2 separate regions of the Homo sapiens genome follow, and region 1 is linked to region 2. Evidence: fine-mapped expression QTL. Tissue or cell type: whole blood. Region 2 holds a variant in brackets; the other region holds the start of a gene. All regions are shown on one strand. Distances are between the middles of the regions.

Region 1 (9,942 bases), 21 kb after region 2:
GAGGATTGCTTGAGCTCGGGAGGTGGAGGTTGCAGGGAGCCAAGATCGTGCCATTGCATTCCAGCCTGGGTGACAGTGCAAGACTTTGTCTCAAAATAAATTAATTAATTAAACTAAATTCTGTGACGCAAAGTCAGAAAGTCTTTATCTACAAACCCCGGCTTTTTCCCCTAACTCCAACCACTTATTTGATGACCAACGTGCATCTCAAAGTTAAGAATTTCAAAGCTTGTTGATTTCCCATCAAAAGTACTTTTCCTCATCCCGGTAAAAAGCCTCAGTCTTAGGCCGGGCGTGGTGGCTCACGCCTGTAATCTCAGCACTTTGGGAGGCTGAGGCGGGTGGATCACGAGGTCAGGAGATCGAGACCATCCTGGCTAACATGGTGAAACCCCGACTCTACTAAAAATACAAAAAAATTAGCCGGGCGTGGTGGTGGGCACCTGTAGTCCCAGCTACTCGGGAGGCTGAGGCAGGAGAATGGCATGAACCCAGGAAGCGGAGCTTGCAGTGAGCCGAGATCACGCCACTGTACTCCAGCCTGGGCGACAGAGCAAGACTCCATCTCAAAAAAAAAAAAAAAAAAAAAAAAAAAAAAGTCTCAGTCTTCAGGCAGTTGGCCAGGACCAAAACCTCTCGAACTTTTTTTTTTTAATTATTATTATACTTTAAGTTTTAGGGTACATGTGCACAATGTGCAGGTTTGTTACATATGTATACATGTGCCATGCTGGTGTGCTGCACCCATTAACTCGTCATTTAGCATTAGGTATATCTCCTAATGCTATCCCTCCCCCCTCCCCGCTAGAACTTTTTTTAATGCTGCAAATAACATGATGTTTTAATATATGTACACATTGTGGAATGGCTAAATCAAGCTAATTAACATATGCATTATTTCACATACTTATTTTTTTGTGGTGTGAGAAAACTTAAAATCTATTATTTTAGTAAGTTTCAAGCATATAACACATTGTTATGAATGAGAGTCACCCTGTTGTACAACAGATCTCTAGGATGACTTTCAAGTCACCCCTGATTCATGCTTCCTCTCACACCCCATGTTTAATTTCTTGGCGCTACCTTCAAAAAAGATCCCAGTTCCTGACCCTTCTCAACTCATCTATTAGCACCACCCTCTTCCAGAACCACTATCCTTTCTTGCCCAGGCAAGGACACCAGCTTTCTCATCTCCTGCTTCCGCCCCTGCAGGCCATTCTCCTCACAGCAACCAGCACTGTTTTCACTGAACATTTTTGCGCATAGCTAATAATTACGTGGTTTAAAAAAACAACAACGCTTTTTAAGTTCCCATAGCCCTGACCCACATCTGTCTATAACCCTCATCCCTATAGGCAATCACTGTTAATTTTTGTTGTTCACTGGAGAAGTCTTTGTAAACATTAATTGGAACAAGCCGGTGCTTGTTTGTAGCCCTGCAATGGCTTTGTTACATTTGGAAGTAAATTCCAAATGCTTACCATGGCCTGTAAGACTTTATGTAAACTGGCCCTGTCTACAGCTCCGTCTCTAAATAATCCTGCCCTTCTTTCCCTCCCTTGCTCTGTTTCAGCCACTCTGGCCACCTTGACCATCCTTGGACAGCCAGGCCCACTCCCACTTTGGGGTCTTTTACTGGCCGTTCTTCAGCATCTTTAGATGGCTCATTTCCTGACCTTCCTTAACTGCATTCAGGCCTCTGATCAAATGTCATCCCCTCAAAGCGGCCTTCCCTGGCCACCTGTCACTCTCTGTGACCTCTATCACTGTCAATTCCTGTAACCTGACTTTTTTTTTTTTTTTTGAGACAGAGTCTCGCTCTGTTGCCCAGGCTGGAGTGCAGTGGTGCGATCTTGGCTCACTGCAAGCTCCGCCTCCCAGGTTCATGTCATTCTCCTGCCTCAGCCTCCGGAGTAGCTGGGACTACAGGCGCCCGCCACCACGCTTGGCTAATTTTTTGTATTTTTAGTAGAGACGGGGTTTCACCATGTTAGCCAGGATGGTCTCGATCTCCTGACCTTATGATCTGCCCGCCTCGGCCTCCCAAAGTGCTGGGATTACAGGCGTGAGCCACTGCGCCCGGCACCTGACTTTATTTTTAATTGAAAAATAAAAATTGTATATATTTATGGTGTACAACATGTTTTGTATATTTATACATTGTACAATGGCTAAATCAAGCTAATTAACATATGCATTATTTCACATATTTATCATTTTTGTGGTGAGGACACTGAAAATTTATCCTCTTAGCAATTTTCAAGTATACATTGTTACTAACTATAGTTACCATGTTGTGGACTGGATCTCTTGAATTTATTCCTCCTGTCTAAATGAAATTTTGTATCCTTTGCAATGTCTTCCCAATCCTCACCCCCGATTTTCTTTTCTTCCAAGCATCCTTTATCTGATGTCATCTGCCCCACTAGAATATCTGCTCCCAAAGGGCAGGTGCTTTTCCTATTCATTACAGGATCTCCAGCCTACAGCTGTGCCTGGCAGATGACTAGAGTTCCATAATTCATTCAACATATAAATGAAAGAAATGAACAAAAAGTGAAAAAGAGATGAACAGGGCCAGGCGCAGTGGCTCACACCTGTAGTCCCAGCACTTTGGGAAGCTGAGGTGGAAGGATTGATTGAGGCCAGCCTCGGCAACATGGTGAAACTCTGTCTCTACAAGAAATACAAAAATTAGCCGGGTGTGGTGGCACATGCCTGTAGTCTCAGCTACTCGGGAGGCTGAGACAGGAGAATTGCTTGAACCTGGGAAGCTGAGGCTGCAGTGAGCTATGATCATGCCACTGTACTCCAGCCTGGGTGACAGAGGGAGACCCTGTCTCAAAAACAAAAAATAAAGACATGAACAGATCATTTGGCAATGGCTCTCAAAATTCCCAATGTGCATACCCTTTGACCCAGCAATTCTACTTGCACTTCAAATGAGATAGTCTACTGACAATACTAACATATACATGCAGCCACGTGTACCAGGATATTAACTGTAGCATAATCTCAGCACTTTGGGAGGCTGAGGCAGGAGGACTGCTTGAGCCAGGAGTTTGAGACAGCCTGGGCAACATAGTGAAACCCCGTCTCTACAAAAAATAGAAAATTAGCTGGGTGTGGTAGCACATGCCTGTGGTCCCAGCTACTCCTCAGGCTGAGGTGGGAGGATTGCTTAAGCCCAGGAGGTTGAGGCTGCAGTGAGCCACAACTGTATTACATGACTCCAGCCTGGGCGAGACAGCAAGAACATGTCTGAAAAAGAAAAAATTAGAAAACAGAAACATACACACAAACCCCTGCAGTAAATGTTTGTAAGAGCAGAAGTTCAGCAACAGTCTAAATGCTCATCAACAGAGAAAGTGTTAAAGTATGATATATCTCCAGAACAGCATACCATGCCACTAATACAAAAGGCAGCTCACTGGGTGCCTGACTGTACTGCTGACTCATCACCAGGCTGGCTCCCCGGTGCCAGGGAAAAAGTGTAGGCTTGCTCTGGAGTGAGACAGGCTTGGGTTTGAATCCAGGCCCGGGTTTGAATCCAGGCCCTGCTGCTTCCTGCCTATGGGGACTTCGGTAAGGCCCTTCTCTCTTCCAGGCTCATTTGTCTACATCTGTTTTTTTTTTTTTTTTTTTTTTTTTTTGAGACAGAGCCTTACTCTGTCACCCAGGCTGGAGTGCAGTGGTGCGATATCAGCTCACTGCAACCTCCACCTCCTGGGTTCAAGTGATTCTCGTGCCTCGGCCTCCCGAGCAGCTGGCATTACAGGCGCATGCCACCACACCCGGCTAATTTTTGTACTTTTAGTAGAGATGGGGTTTCGCTATGTTGGCCAGGCTGGTCTTGAACTCCTGACCTCAGGTGATCTGCCTGCCTCGGCCTCCCAAAGTGCTGAGATTACAAGCGTGAGTCACTGCGCGGACCAACATCTGTTAAACAAATTAGGGGAGAAGATTATAGTGATGTATATAAAGCAGAGAGCACACAGCCTGGTACACAGTGGGTCCAAGGTCAATGCCAGGCCTCCTCTTTCCCTCTTTTAAGAAAATTCTACCTCTGAGGGTTGCCCTGACGTGAAACTGGCAATCGTGAGTGATCTGGGGTTGAGAAATTCAGATATGGCCTGAGCTGAAGAAGTAAAATTGGACACTGATAGACATAATACAGAGATGGCCTGTCATGTGTATCTTTATCAAACACCCAGAATCTTTCCCCAGAATCCATCAACAGTGGACTCAAGTCATTCTGGGTGACTGGTGTTTCTACCTGTGGCAGCCTGGAGAGGTGGCTCCACCTGGTACTGGTACTGGGACAATGACAGTAGGGATGAGGCCTGGAGGGGAGAGGGCTGCTCAGAATCTACAACTATCAGCATGGTAGACCACAAAATAATACACAGAGACAACACACAGTACCATTAGGCAACAGGCACTGTTCTATGCACTCTCACCCATTTAATGCTGGCGGCAATGTTGTAAGTAAGGTTATACCACACCCAATTCACAAACAGGGACGTAGAAGTAGAGAGTATTAAGTCACTTGGTCAAGCTCAGCCGCTATTTATATGAACTCAACACATGCTCTTAACTCCAATGCTTTATTATAACAGCAGCTCCAGAAGGAAACCGGGAACCAGTGCTTTAGGAAAGGAAAATGGGAACCAGAGGTGGAAACTTACTTTTATTGTATACAGCCAGAGAGGTTTGAATTGTGTATGTACATGTAATACCTGTTCAAATATAATTTTAAAAAACTTTTTTTTAGACCAGCCACGGTGGCTCACGCCTGTCATCCTAGCACTTTAGGAGGCCGAGGCGGGCGGATCACTTGAGGTCAGGAGTTCGAGACCAGCCTGGCCAACATGGCAAAACCCAGTCTCTACTAAAAATACAAAAAATTAGCCAGGCGTGGTGGACGCCTGTAATCCCAGCTATTTGGGAGGCTGAGGCAGGAGAATCGCTTGAATTTCAGGAGGTGGAGACGGCAGTGATCCGAGATCTCGCCACTGCACGCCAGCCTGGGTGACAGGGCGAGACTCCGTCTCTAAATAAATAAATAAAATAAAAATAAATAAAATTTCAAATAAAAAGCTAGAACCTTCCCATCCACCCACTCTGCCCACTGGGGAACTGCCGACCCTTCCGAATGCGCATGCGCTCTCCAGGCCGCGCCCGTCGCCCAATGTTCCTCTTTGGCGCGCGCAAGACTCCGCCCACGTGTGTTTAAATTTTCGACCCTGGAGCGGATTCCCTTCTCCAACGCGGCCTTCGAGGGTTTTAAACATAGTTCTGTCTCAGACTATTCTGCATCTCCCAGGCCTTAAGGATAAAACTGACACTGGAGACCCTTCAGGGTCTGACCTGCCCATTCTGCTGCCTCACCTCCCACCCAGGTGGACCCTGAATCCAAGCCAGTCTAGACCTCTTCCCCCGGGGTCTTCGCCGCCTTTGCTTAGCTGTTCCCTGGAGTACCCTCGCCTGCCTGTCCTTCAAGGTCCAACCGGACCCGCGCCCTTTCCTAAGTGATTTGAGGCCCTGGCAGTCTCTCCACAGGCCGGGGTGTCTTCCAGGGCGCACGCCAAGTCTGATTCATTCATGTGTTCTTGGCACTCAGCCCAGAACAGTGAAATTCCTCCCTGTCGTCCCACCCCACTGCATCCCGCCAACATCACCGAAGAGGCACAACTCGAACCCCAGATCCGGGCCGCTCTCCCTCCTGCCGGCTCCTCGGCGTATCCATTTCCCTACTCATCTCCCCACCCTCAACCCCCCAACCGCGCGCACGCGCATTGAGTCAGAGCCGCGGCGTCCTCCCGCCTCCCGCTCCGGAACCCGCATGCGTGCTGAAGCCGACCGCCTCCATCCACGCACGCTCAGCCCGGCGAGCGCATTCAGTTCTCGAGCTCCAGCCCTCAGCGCATGCGCAGGACGAGTCGCCTGAGGGAACTGATCTCAGCTCGGGCCCGCGTTACATCCTCCTCCTCTTCTTCCTTCGGCCCAGCTTTCCTTAGGGGCTGCAACCCGGACGCCGAGGCCGGTTTCGGAGTGGGGAGTGCCCATTTTCTCTCCTTCCCACGTTCCTGGCCCCCAGACGCCATTTGCAGGCGGGTGGCTTGGGTCAGCCTCCCCGCCCCCACCCGACTCCCGTCACGGGAGAGCGCACACCGCGCCCCGAGAACCAATCAGCAGCCGCGTTAGGTAAGGGGGCCGCGAGCCCGCGCGAGGCTAGCGCACCGGCGGCGGGCGGGGCGCTCCGGCAGGCCCCGCCCCCGCCTTGGCCATTGAAAGGTCGCTGGGACGTCCGGCGGGGGTGCGGCACTGAGTAGGGGGCCGGCGACCGTCAATTCGATACTGGGTTGGCAGGAATGGGGGCGGGGGACGGAAATAACGTGTAAATGAGAAACTTATGCTCTGCGAGATCCAAGTACAGCCTGCAAACTGCCCGTCAAGTACTGGGGAGGCCGCCCCAATAACGTGTAACGAGAAACTTGAGTTGGGTTCCCCGAGGGAAGCTTTGTAAAGCAATGCCTAAATCCGGGGGAGGCTCCCTTCTAGAACCCCGTAGAGAGAAGTTTAAATCCTAGGGAGTCCTTAGGAAAATGTGCAAATCGACTACAGTTCTGGGCTGGGGAGTGCCCCACGAAGTGGGCTTACATACTCAGGAATCGGGAGAGTCTCCCCAAATATTTGCAAATAGTGAGGTTCTGGGAGATCCCCGAAGGGAGTGTGTGAAGCGATGCCTAAATACTGAGGAGACACTCCCCAAAAATATGTAAATTCGATTTGTTAATTTTCGGGAAGTCACCCTAGAAGTCCATCAGCAGACACTTAAATAGACCAGCTTTCCTAAGTTTGGGGGTAATCCCCAAAGGAGCCCGGAAACAGCATTGGAAGTCCCCAGCTTGCATGTGGGTGGGGTTTTTTTTTTTTTTCTTTGAGACAAGAGTCTCGCTCTGTCGCCCAGGCTGGAGTGCAGTGGCACGATCTCGGCTCACTGTATCCTCCACACCTGGTTTAGGTGGGCTTTTAAGTTCCAAGGAACTCCCCACATTCAGATACTGTGGAAGCTCCCAGAATAAAGGGCACAGGGAGGCCAGGTGCGGTGGCTTACCCGGGGAATCCGATCACTTTGGGAGACCGAGGCTGGCGAATCACTTGAGGCCAGGAGTTCGATACCAGCCTGGCCAACATGGCGAAACCCCGTCTCTACTGAAAATGCAAAACTTAGCCCGGCCTGGTGGTATGCACCTGTAATCCCACCTACTTGGGAGGCTGAGGCAGGAGAATTGCCTGAACCCGGGAGGCAGAGGCCGCAGCCAGCTGAGATCGTGCCACTGCACTCCAGCCTGGGCAACAGAGCAAGACCGTCTCAAAAAAAAAAAAAAAAAAAAAAGAAAAGCATTCACACAGGGGCGCTTACTTTGCACAGGAAAGGGCATCCTCATAGGCCAGTAAACAGAAACCTCAGGGCTGGGCAGTATCCCAATTGAGGCATGAAGACAAGTACTTAAGCACTGGGTAGATTTCAGAATAATGTGTAAAGACACTTAATTGCAAGTGAGGGAGGAGTCTCAGATTCTGGGGAGAATCTCCATCCCAGACTAAGCAGTCATTTCGGTATGGAATGAGTCATTTTCCCTAAGCAGCTGTAAACAGGCCCTTGTCCTCCTCTGTCTAGGAAAGCAGTCTTCAGCCTGGCTTGTGGCTCTGGGAGAGGTCATGTAGCACAGTAGGAGAGGAGCTAGACAAGCCACTTGTCTGGCTAGCAAAATTATGACTGCATCTTGTAAACAGACCCTTCCATTCTGGAGAGTCTCGGAGGGACCTGTTTATGTCATTATGAGGTGGGGCAGGGGAGGATTCATGGAGGGATTTAACAGATACTTCCAAGCTAAGCAAGGGTCAGCAAACTGTTTTTTTGAGACAGGGTTCTGCTTTTTTTTTTTTTTAGACAGGGTCTTGCTTTGTTACCCAGGCTAGAGTGCAGTGGTGCAGCATGATCATGGCAGCCTTGACCTCCCAGGCTCAAGTGATCCCACCACCTCAGCCTCCCAAGTAGCTGGGACTACAGGTGCATGTCACCACGCCCAGCTACTTTTTTCTTTTTTAAATGTTATATAGAGACAGGATCTTGCTATGTTGCCCAAGCTGGTCTCGAACTCCTGGGCTGAAGCAGTCCTCCTGTCTCGGCCTCCCAAAGTGTCGGGATTACAGGTGTGAGCCACCATACTCGGCCATTCAGTAAAACTTTCTGTTAAGGCCAGAGAATAATTATTTTAGGCCCTGCAGACTGTATTGTCTGTCTCAGCTCTGCCATTGCATCAAGAAGGCAGCCACAGACAGTTTCTAAATTGATGGATGTGGCCATGTTCCGATAAAACTTTCTATTTACAAAAACAGAAAGCAGACCAGATTTGGCCCCTAGGCCACACTTTGTCAACCTGACTTCTGAGCTTGAGCAGATAGCCCCACTGAGTTCTACAAACAGTTAAGTAGTCAAATACCACCCTAGACTGATGTGTGAACAGCTGGGAAAACTCTCTAAGGACCTGTAAACAGATACTGAAATGGTGGAGAGTGGGTTGCATAGGTAGCCAGACATTATATAACATCTCAAATAGAATAAACACTGGAGACACCTTGAAATGAAATTCACTGTGAGGGAAGGCAGACCGTCAGGAACGGAAGACAGACAGACACTGAAATGTAGTGGGATACCAGGTGAAAATAGGCCCTTGAGTGTTGGAACCTCACCATGACATACACTAGTAAGTGGCTGGAGCCCCACCATGACATACACTAGTAATGACTAATCAAGAGTAGCTGTTGGACTGAGGATCACATTGCTGGTTTGTAAGCAAATGCCTTGCTGCATTTTGGTAAGGAGAATATCCTATTTTTATGTGAACTTGCCCCTGTGAGTTTATTTATGTTGGAGCATTTTAATAGTTGGGAATAGTTTTGGCTGCAAGTAAGAGATAGATGTGTATTTGTTTTTCACTGCCTCTCGAAGTAGGCAATTCAAGGTTAACGTGGAACCCCCCAACCTTGTGTCTTGTTTTATTGTACCTTCCATTAAATTGCCTTACAGCCCAGGATAGCTGCTTGAGCTCCAACCTCCACACCCACATTCCTGTCACTGGGAGGAAGGGGCAGAAGGCATGTGCCAGAGTCTGTGAAGGGAAGTTTCTGGAAGCTGCCAAGCCACACTTCTAGTGTCATACCATAGCCAGAAAGTACTTACTCACATGGCCACACCTAACTGCAAACAAGGATGAGAAGTTTGTTCTGGATAGCCATGTACCTAGCTCAGAACTGAGGGTTTTACTTTTTTGGAAGAAGTCAGGAGTGGATGTTGGGAACCAGCTTGCAGTTGCTACCACAGGCCCAGAGCTCTGTTGAAAGGAAGGGCCTTGGCCGGGCATGGTGGCTCACGCCTATAATCCCAGCCCTTTGGGAGGCTGAGGCAGGTGGATTGCCTGAGGTCAGGAGTTTGAGACCAGCCTGGCCAACATGGTGAAACCCCATCTCTACTAAAAATACAAAAAAAATTAGTCGGGTGTGGTGGTGGGCATCTGTAATCCCAGCTTCTCAGGAGACTGAGGCAGGAGAATTGCTTGAATCTGTGAGGTGGAGGCTGCAGTGAGCCGAGATTACGCCATTGCACTCCAGCCTCGGTGACAAGAGCGAAACTCTGTCTCAAAAAAAAGAAGAAAGGAAGAGCCTTGGTTGGGCACAGTGGCTCACATCTGTAATCCCAGCACTTTGGGAGGCCAAGGTAGGTGCATCACCTGAGGTCAGGAGTTCGAGACCAGCCTGGCCAACATGGTGAAACCCCATCTCTACTAAAAATATAAAAATTAGCCAGGCATGGTGGTGGGTGCCTGTAATCCCAGCTACTTGGGAGGCTGAGGCAGAAGAATTGCTTGAACT
Region 2 (10,565 bases):
CCCCCGATGCTGGTGTTGTGTGGGTGGCGGTAGACCTCAGTGTCAGTAGTATCAGTGAGTGGTGACATCTGGTGTTTTATGGGACATGTGGTCGTTTGTGGAAGGTTGGGTGTGTTGGAAAACATTGTGTTTATGTGTTTTGCGTTACTGTGTGCTGGTGTATTACTCCGCGTATGTTGTTGTGTGGCCACGCATGTTGGAATATAACGTGTTGGGTTGTGTGGAGGTATTGTATGTCATGTTTGGGTGTGGCTCATGGCTCAGAGGTGATGGTGTATGTTGCGTTTGTTTTTTTGTTTTTGCTTGTTTTAGAGATAGGATCTTGCTATGTTGCCCAGGCTGGTCTCAAACCCCTGGGCTCCAGCAATCCTCCCACCTCAACCTCCCAAACTGCTGGGATTACAGGCATGAGCCACTGCACCCAGCCGTATGTTGCATTTGGGCACTGGGGTCTATGAAGGTCCAACCCCATCCCCTTCCCCCAGGGCATCATCCTGGATGTTGTCCTGTGTGGCCAGAATATACCAGAATCATCTTGCTTCAGGCATGTGCTTCTTGGGTTTCTCCGTGTGTCGCTGTACCTTGTAGGTCTCTGCATGCATCCACTCAGCTTGTCCTCTGACCATACATTTGAATCGCACCACACATCAGAGCATGCTGAATCAGTGCGTGTTTTGAATCATCACTGCGAGCACTTGTGTTCGAGTCAACAGGCGCCACAATGTATGTGCAATTCTCTAGCTCTGGGTGATTGGGGGCTACTATAGGTATGTCCCTAAATGTTGTGTGTCTACACGTATTGGGTTTCGTTCCAAGGGTGTGTAGTGTTTAGGAAACTGGGACTGCACAGTGTTTGTGTCGGTGTGTGGTGTGTGGCATCAGGGCGTCACTACTTTAATATATATTGTGTGTTTGTGTAACACCTGGTGTATGTTGTGTTTGTGTGGCCACAGTTGTGCATCGTCCTATTTGTGGTGTTTGGGTGTGGCTCTTTGTGTCAGAGAAAGTTGTGACAACTTTGAGTGTAATATTTGTGCCTGTGTGTGGACGGTGTTTGGGTGGCTGTGTGTGCCACGGGATACTGCCTGCTTGCTAAGTGCTGGTGTGTGTCACACCATGTGTGTGGTGTCTGGGTGTGGCTGTGGGTTTCAGAGCTTGCTGGGAGTTGTGAGTCACTCTGTGTAGGTTGTGTTGTGTGCCCTGGTGTGTTAGTCTCCGTCTTGGGCTGTGGAGTGTCCTTCGGTGTCTGGGTGTGGTGAGTAGAGGTGTGTGTCACAAAGTACAGACCATTGTGTGTGACAAAGCCCATCGTGTGTCTGTGTGTGTCTTTATCCACGTGGATGGACGTCTCTTTCTTGCTCTGCCCCAAGACACACCCTAGCCCCTCCTTATTCTCAAAAGGGGGAGCTGGGGAGCCTCCCCCTACCCTGGGGCCTCCCCTGCCCCTCCCCGCCCTGCCTGGCCGTCACCACTCCCCAGAGGGCACAGGGCTCTGCTGTGCCTCAGAGCAAAAGTCCCAGAGCCAGCAGAGCAGGCTGACGACCTGCAAGCCACAGTGGCTGCCCTGTGCGTGCTGCGAGGTGGGGGACCCTGGGCAGGAAGCTGGCTGAGCCCCAAGACCCCGGGGGCCATGGGCGGGGATCTGGTGCTTGGCCTGGGGGCCTTGAGACGCCGAAAGCGCTTGCTGGAGCAGGAGAAGTCTCTGGCCGGCTGGGCACTGGTGCTGGCAGGAACTGGCATTGGACTCATGGTGCTGCATGCAGAGATGCTGTGGTTCGGGGGGTGCTCGGTGAGTGGGGCATGGTGGCTGGGAGCTGGGACTCCTAGGTCTGAGGGAGGAGGGGCTGGGGGTCAGGACTCTTGGGTCTGAGGGAGGGGGGGCTGGGGGTCAGGACTCCTGGGTCTGAGGGAGGAGGGGCTGAGGGTCAGGACTCCTGGGTCTGAGGGAGGAGGGACTGGGGACTTGGACTCCTGGGTCTGAGGGAGGAGGGACTGAGGGCCTGGACTCCTGGGTCTGAGGGAGGAGGGGCTGGGGGTCAGGACTCCTGGGTCTGAGGGAGGAGGGGCTGGGGTCTGGACTCCTGGGTCTGAGGGAGGAGGGGCTGGGGGTCAGGACTCCTGGATCTGAGGGAGGAGAGGTTGGGGGCCTAGACTCTTGGGTCTGAGGGAGGAGGGGCTTTGGCTGGGACTCCTGGGTGCTCCCAGGAGACAGTTGCTGGGGTCCTTCTCTGCAAAAGGAAGGGAATATTTGTTTCAGTGTTTCAGTCTTTGAAGATGTTGCCATTAGACGGCCAGAGGTCCAGGACCCCTGGAGGCCAGAGGGTGGCTGATCAGACACTCAAGCCCCCCAAGAGCCAATAAGGGGAGAGGTAGCCCCAGGTTTGGTGAAGGGAGAGTGGAGGAAAGACAAAGTTCTTCCAGTAGGCGGCAGCTCTTTGGTCCTTGTCTAACCTCTAATGTTTACCCAGTGCCTTAGATGCAAAGGACAGAAAAAACTGCCTTGGGGGTGGGGATGGGAAATGGGAAACAAACCTCTCCCCCGACCTGCCTCCCCCCACCAACCCCAACCCAGTCTCCACTGTTAACAAGCTCAATTTCTCCCCAAATCTGCATGCTGATTAGTCAGGGAAATAGTGGAGAGGTAGGCTTACAGTGGCCTGGACTCCTAGGTACCAGGAGAGGAGGGGGCTGGGTCCTGGATTCCTGAGTCTTAAGGAGAAGGGGGTTTTGATTGCTTTTGGGGAAGAGGGGCTGACTCCGAAGATGAGTGGTGAGTAGGGAAGAAAGGGGAAAGTGGGGTCAGGGCAGGTCTCAGCAGGCTCCCGTCACATTCCAGCCCTGGTCAGGCCAGTGATGGGGCAGATCAAGGACAAGGGTTGGAATAAGTGGCTTGAGGGGAGAACAGACTTGCTCAACAGGAAAGGAGGGGCTGGAGACCTCTCTGGCAGAAGGGTTGTGGAACTGGGCTGGTAGGGCCAGATGCGGACACTGATATGAAGATTGGGTAGATTCCTGAGGGTCTGATGTTCCGACTTGGATCTGGAGGGGGTGGTGGGCAGCTCTGAAGTGACCAGGAGCCACATGGAGGGTCAGGCATGCAGCTTCCTCTGGCAGGCGGCGGGCACTGAGGGGGTGGGGCCGCCGAAGTCCATGCCAACAGGAAGCATGGCCGGGGCCTGCCCGCCGCTCCCACGCCGAAGCACCGCACCCAGAAGCCGAGGTGGGAACACAGTGACCCTGGCAGATGGGAAGAGACGGGGTCCATCCTACCCCACTTCACCCCTCTGCTTTCTCACCCCTCATTTCTTCCTTCCCTCCACCATGGCCAGGCCACTGCCTCTATCAGTGGGACCTTGGGGAAGCTGTTACAACCCTCTGAACCTCAGTTTCCCCATCTGTAAATTGGGGTGAGGGTTAAAATACATGACCCTAAGGGTCACCCTCCACCCTTTTTATTTTATGTAGAGATGGGACCTTGCTTTGTTGCCTAGGCTGGTCTTGAACTCCTGGACTCAGGCAATCCTCCTGCCTCAAAGTGCTGGGATTACAGGCCTGAGCCACAGCTCCTCAGTCCCCTTTTGAGGACTCTCTTAATAACATCCACCGCCCCTC[A/G]CCACCTCCATCTCAATCTAATGAGCTCATTTCTGCAAAGGACCCAGACACCTGCTCCCCAGGGGGAGGGGCTGGCAGAGAGGCAGGTGCAAAACCCTAGGGAGTCCAAGGGAACTGGATAGAGATATCCAAAAGCACCAGGTGGGGTGGAGGAGGAGGGATGGGGAGAGGTACAGAGAGAGACAGAGACACAGAGATACATGGAGAGAAAAAGAGAGATGGAGACAAAAATGCAGAAAGATAGAGAAGTACAGCTAAAGAGAAAGACAAATAGGGCTATCAAGCTACTGAGAAATCCACCAGTGAGAGATACACACACAGCGTTAGAAAAGACAATAGAGGGCCGGGCGCGGTGGCTCACGCCTGTAATCCCAGCACTTTGGGAGGCCGAGGTGGGCGGATCACAAGGTCAGGACATCGAGACCATCCTGGCTAACACAGTGAAACCCCATCTCTACTAAAAACACAAAAAATTAGCCAGGCATGGCGGCGTGTGCCTGTAGTCCCAGCTACTCAGGAGGCTGAGGCAGGAGAATGGTGTGAACCCAGGAGGCGGAGCTTGCAATGAGCCAAGATCGTGCCACTGCACTCCAGCCTGGGTGACAGAGCAAGACTCCGTCTCAAAAAAAAAAAGAGACAATAGAAACAAAGACCCTCAAAACACATAGAAAGACAGCAACAACCATCCCTAGAGACAGGGAAATTCAGAGAACAGAGTACAGGCCCAAGTGCAGACAGGTCCGGGATTTGGGGGAAGAGGAAATGGAAAAGTAGAGAGGACCACCAGAGAAGCAAATTGCAGTGTGAGGAGGGAGCTTGTTGTCTAGTGGTGTGGGCAGTTAAGACAGACTGAAGAAAGAGGCAGGGAACCAGGGAGCCATAGAAGGTGGGGGAGGGCTGGTGACAACAGCACTATTGTTCTGATAGGGGGTTGGGGAGCAGGCCCCTGGGGCAGGAAACTGGCCCTCTTCCCCTGCTCAGAGGCGGGATGCTGGCCCAGCCAGGGGAGCTGGCAGCCCTCTTAGGAGAAACAGGTGCAATGCTTTGTAAGGACGCCCAGGTGGTCCCCTCCCCCTGCAAATACCCGCCAGGCAGGGACCAACCCCTCTTAGGAAATCCAACAGTCCCAGTCCCCTCTAAATCCCTCTCTCCAGAATTCTAGATTCCTCCAAGGTTGTGCCACACAAAGAGAGGAAAAAAAAAAAAAGGAACAATTTCTCCGTGGTTTCTGGAGGCCCTGTGCTTCCGGCCAGATCTGCCCTGGGCTTAGAGCCAGAAGAGAGGGGTGGCAGTGGGGAGCTGCAGGGGGGCAGAACCGAGGGGGCTGTCTCAGAGCTGAGGCTGGGTCTCAGGGACTCAGCCCTCCGGATGAGAGCAGAGAAGGGTGTGACTCAGTCTTTGAGGATTGAATGGTAGTTTCTACATTCTTCCAGATCTGGGGTTGGGGTTGATTGAAGTTGGTTTCTAGGACAACACCAGGTGGGTAGGAAGGGAAGGGGAGGGGGCACTCTCTAGAGGCTAGATGTCTTTTTCTAGACACCACACACACACACCCACACACACACACACACACACACACACCTGAAGAACTATTTTTGATGTGAAATGGGACAGGAATAAGAAGGAATGTGAGTTTCAAGGTCCCCCTTCATGGGTATGGGTCTTGGGAGAAGAGCTGAGGAAGAGGGTAGACACCAGCATCTGGACAGGGTTGTCCTGTTGGGGAGAAAGAGAGCATTCCTGGGGACCAGATGATGGTGTTTTTTTGTTTGTTTGTTTGCTTGCTTGCTTGTTTCGAGACGGAGACTCGCTCTGTTGCCCAGGCTGGAGTGCAGTGGCGCGATCTCTCAGCTCACTGCAACTTCCACCTCCTGGGTTCAAGATTCTGGTTCCTCAGCCTCCCAAGTAGCTGGGATTACACACCCAGCTAATTTTTTGTTTTTTTAGTAGAGACTGGGTTTCACCATGTTGGCCAGGGGGTCTCAAACTCCCGACCTTCGGTGATCCACCTGCCTCAGCCTCCCAGAGTGTTGGGATTACAGGTGTGAGCCACCGCACTGGGCCCAGATGATGGTTTTGAGACTTCTCCAGAACCGACACATCAAGAGGGACTGATTTGCAGGGGAAGGAGGCTAGGAAAATTGGGAATCAAAAAAAAAAAATGGTGGTTTTGAAGGAAAGGTGGAGGGCCAGGCGGAGGGAGACCTGGGATCTCACACCGCTTTTTCCGTCCCCCCTGACAGTGGGCGCTCTACCTGTTCCTGGTTAAATGCACGATCAGCATTTCCACCTTCTTACTCCTCTGCCTCATCGTGGCCTTTCATGCCAAAGAGGTCCAGGTAGGGCAGGCCCCGCCCCTAAGCCTTGCTCCCTCCAACCCCCTCAGCGCCCTGTCAGCTCACACTTTCCACCCTCCTCCTCCTCCTGATCTGAGTAATGAAGTTCTTCTGCCCTAGGTGCTGCGTCCACACCCTCACCTACCCAGATGGGATGAACCATGAGCAGACAGGCAGAGCCTCCCCCACCAGCTCCGCCTTCCCCTGTAGTCCCCAGCCCCCCCTTGCACACTCACGGATGCTGAGAGTGCCCTTGCAGCCCTGCTTCCGCCCCCAGGCCTCTGTCCACTCTGCTCCCAGGCACTCAGCTTCCCAGATCTCTGTGCTCCGACATGGCATCCCCAATCCAGTCCTCAAGCAACCTAAGGTCCTAGGGCTGCCCACTCCTTTTTTTTTTTTTTTTTTTTTTTTTTTTTGAGACAAGGTCTTGCTCTGTTGCCCAGGCTAGAGTGGAGTGGCACGATCTCTGCTCACTGCAACCTCCACCTCCTGGGTTCAAACAATTCTCATGCCTCAGCCTCCCAAGTAGCTGTGACTACAGGCAGATGCCACCACGCCCAGCTAATTTTTTTGTATTTTAGTAGAAACGGGGTTTCACTATGTTGTCCAGGCTGGTCTCCAACTACTGAGCTCAAGCAGTCTGCCCACCTTGTCCTCCCAAAGTGCTAGGATTACGGGCTTGAGCCACTGCACCTGGTCCGGTCCCAGGGGTGCCCACTCCTAATCACCCTATCTCTGTGCCAATAACCTCCCTCTTGCCCCAGACCCAGGAGCTCTCCCCATCCATACCCCACCTTGGGTCTCACCCAGACACATCCCATCCCCTATTGTCCCATTGCCCCAGATCCTGTTGCTCCATTCCCTTTCCCCTCTTCCCCCTCTCCTATCATAACTTTGCATGTAAAATGGGGATTATTGGCCATGTGTGGCAATTCTATGAGCAGTGCCTGGCACATAAGAGGTGCTCAGTAAACAGTGCACATTATCATCTTATCATAGAGTAGCTAAGTAGCCTGTAGCCCAGTGCGCCATTGCCCATGGAAGGGACCTGGGCCTCAGCTTCCACATCTATAAAATGGGGGCAATAATAATATCAATCTCACTGGGTTGTGGGCATTTACTAAGTCACAATATGTAAACGGGATAGAGCAGTACCTGGCGTATCCACGGTGCCCAGTACATGCTGATTTTGTTATTGTTATTGTTTTGTTTATTTTGAGATGGAGTCTCGCTCTGTCACCCAGGCTAGAGTGCAGTGGCATGACCTCAGCTCACTGCAACCTCTGCCTCCTGGGTTCAAGTGATTCTCCTACCTCAGACTCCCCAGAAGCTGGGACTATAGGTGTGCGCCACCATGCCCGGCTTATTTTTGTATTTTTCAGTAGAGATGGAGTTTCACCATGTTGGCCAGGCTTGTCTCAAACTCTTGACCTCAAGTGATCCACCCACCGCAGCCTCCCAAAGTGCTGGGATTACAGGCGTAAGCCATCGCGCCCGGCCCATGGCTTTGTTATTGCTGATATTATTATTACAGTTATTACGCGTGTCAACCGAAAGGGGAGTAGGAGCGAGCTCCAGGCATGTGGAATGCAAGCTCTAGGGAGGCAGGGGGGTCTGTTGGGTTCACTGTGTATCCTTAGCACATAGAACAATGTCAGGCACACAGTCGGCGCTCAGTCAGTGTTCAAAGGCTGGAAGTGGGCTGAAACTAGTGGGGTGGGTGGTGGGGAAGGAGGAAAAAGTGGAAAGATGTCTTCCTCAAGTCCTGTCCCGCTCCCTCCCTATCCCTCTCCCGCCCTGCACTCCCTCCCTCCTGGCCAGGCGGCACACCCCACTTATCTCAGGGCGCAGGCAGGCGCGGGCCGCCGCCTGACCTGCGCCTGACCTGCTCCTGACCCCTCCCTTCTTGGCCCCCTACCGGCAGCTGTTCATGACCGACAACGGGCTGCGGGACTGGCGCGTGGCGCTGACCGGGCGGCAGGCGGCGCAGATCGTGCTGGAGCTGGTGGTGTGTGGGCTGCACCCGGCGCCCGTGCGGGGCCCGCCGTGCGTGCAGGATTTAGGGGCGCCGCTGACCTCCCCGCAGCCCTGGCCGGGATTCCTGGGCCAAGGGGAAGCGCTGCTGTCCCTGGCCATGCTGCTGCGTCTCTACCTGGTGCCCCGCGCCGTGCTCCTGCGCAGCGGCGTCCTGCTCAACGCTTCCTACCGCAGCATCGGCGCTCTCAATCAAGTCCGCTTCCGCCACTGGTTCGTGGCCAAGCTTTACATGAACACGCACCCTGGCCGCCTGCTGCTCGGCCTCACGCTTGGCCTCTGGCTGACCACCGCCTGGGTGCTGTCCGTGGCCGAGAGGTGAGGGTGATGGAGGCATAAATGCGCAGGGGGGAACCCCGGACAGCCACGGCGGCCGTCCTGTGCCGCGGTGCAGGTTGAGGCCCCCTAGGACCAAGCAGTGGAGAAAGTTCACACTTTGACCCCTTCTCCTCTTGCTGGCTGAAATTTGCCCACACTCCCATCAACTGGGGTGAGAGGAACCAACAGACAAGCCCCCAGCCAATCCTCCACCTGCAGCCTTCAGTCTCCCCAAACGCACACACAGACCCTAGAAAGCCCCTCCCTTCCGGCTGCCTGACCTCTGCCTCAGGTTTACAGGCCATCTGTTCGGTCTCCGAACCTATCTCTGGGACCTGCCTAAAGGGTTGCCTCTGCCTTGGAGGAAGGAGACATATTTTCCCAATTAGCACGGAATGCACTGTAGGTAGGTGCTTTTTGTGATCCTAGGAAGGGGATGATTTGGAACTGCTCTGGAAAATAATTCCAAGCAGGGAATTGGAACTAGATCCTGGTTGCCAGCTAGATACTGTGTAACCCGATGCCGCGCCTCAATTTCTATCCCTTTCAGAGAAAAACGAGGTTGGGAGTGATCTCAGCCAGTGGTCCTCAAAGTGTGATTTCAAGACCAGCAGCATCACCTGGGAACTTGCAAATGAAAACTCTCAGGTCCCTTCCAGACCTACTGAATCCTGGAGGGTAGGGCCAGCAATCCACTTTAGCAAGCCTTCCAGGTGATTCTATGGCCCAACCAAGGTTGAGAACCTCTGGTCTAGTGTATGTGGCAAAGATCCTTCAGGGCAGGAGGAGAATGAGAAGATCTGGCTTTAGATCTCTCCTCTCTGAGCCTCAGTTTCCTCATCTGAAAAATGCATGTCACGTTCCACCATCTGTAGTCTCCCTGGCAGTTCTTGTTTTTTGATCTGGAGTCTCAATTATCCAGGCTAGCGTGCAGTGGCACAATCTCTGCTCCCTGCAACCTCTGCCTCCCGGCTTCAAGCAATTCTCATGCCTCAGCCTCCCTAGTGGCTGGGATTACGGATGTGCACCACCATGCCTGACTAGTTTTTGTATTTTTAGTAGAGACCACGTTACCGTGTTGCCCAGGCTGGTTTTGAACTCTTGATTTCAAGTGATCCTCCTGCCTAAGCCTCCCAAAGTGCTGGGATTACCATGCCCGCCCTCTGTCATGAGTTTAAACTCCTTCACCTTCCAGGATCTTAGTTTTCACAATTGGGAAATTGGTCAGAATCAGGATTAATGAATGATCCCCCCACCATGTTTCTCAATTGAATGATGGGAGAATGGGGAGGAAGTCAAAGTTCCACATTCCAAGGCAGAAGTCCTGAAACTAGAATGTACTTCGGAATGAGGGGGTGGGGTTTGTGAACAGTACAGATTCCATCTTCGCTCCTAGAAACTCCAACCCGGTGGGTCTGGGGTGTCAGGGGCCCTCATGAATGAAGCTTTCCCTGCTGGTCTTGCGGCAAGGGGCCTGTGGACAAAGTTAGACAAATCTCAATGTTTCAACCCCTTCCATGGCTGGACTTAAATGTCTCCTCTGTGAAGTGAGAGGAAAGGAAGGCCGAGTCCCACCAAGCCTTTTTAGAGTCCTTTTTGGTCCTGATAGGGCCACTTCTGGACCACACAGCATCTTTGTGGAAATTAGAAAAATATACCCCTTCCTCTGGGTGGATGTAGCCACCAGTCAGGGTCTGACTGGGTTTTGGCCCCCTATCGACTCTCCACCCTCAACCACACGCTCTGAATGCTACAGCAGCCCGGGTAGCCTAGCTGAGACCATACCGGCATTGGGATTGGCCAGACCCAGTCTCAAATCCCAGAGTGGCTAAGCAACTTGCCCAGGTCACACAGCAGAGAGGAGGCCATGCAGGCTTTCCAAAGCTCAGAACTTAATGGCTTTTTGTCCAGGTGATTCTTAGGACTATGGGTGTATACTGGGAGGGGAAGGGAGGGAACCAGAGGGAAGGGGATGGGAGGGTATAGAGGGAAGGGGAGTGAATATCATGGAAACCTCTATGGTGGGGTTTTAGAACTAACCTACCCTTCCCCATAGGCAGGCTGTTAATGCCACTGGGCACCTTTCAGACACACTTTGGCTGATCCCCATCACATTCCTGACCATCGGCTATGGTGACGTGGTGCCGGGCACCATGTGGGGCAAGATCGTCTGCCTGTGCACTGGAGTCATGGTGAGTACAGCTGCCTTGGGGACATGATCCCTATCCCAAACTGGTCATCCTCTGGCCCCAGGAAGCCATGATT

The links. PIP is the estimated chance that this variant, and not a neighbour inherited with it, causes the effect.
Region 1: SMG9 starts here. The variant in region 2 is fine-mapped to the expression of SMG9 in whole blood (INTERVAL, PIP above 0.99).

Annotation. Positions count from the first base shown.
Region 1 is chr19:43,750,919-43,760,860 of GRCh38, reverse strand. It overlaps SMG9 (SMG9 nonsense mediated mRNA decay factor), which reads left to right and starts at 5,899. Exons shown (of 14, transcript NM_019108.4): 1 at 5,899-6,207. RefSeq lists a silencer at 6,119-6,478 and an enhancer at 6,709-6,968.
Region 2 is chr19:43,771,927-43,782,491 of GRCh38, reverse strand. KCNN4 (potassium calcium-activated channel subfamily N member 4) reads left to right here and starts at 1,519. Exons shown (of 9, transcript NM_002250.3): 1 at 1,519-1,789; 2 at 5,856-5,951; 3 at 7,873-8,300; 4 at 10,357-10,492. The coding sequence starts at 1,631. RefSeq lists silencers at 1,268-1,537, 3,891-3,940, enhancers at 2,144-2,273, 2,632-3,131, 4,187-4,687 and a cis regulatory region at 7,846-7,885. The variant A/G (reference allele first, on the strand shown) is at 3,613.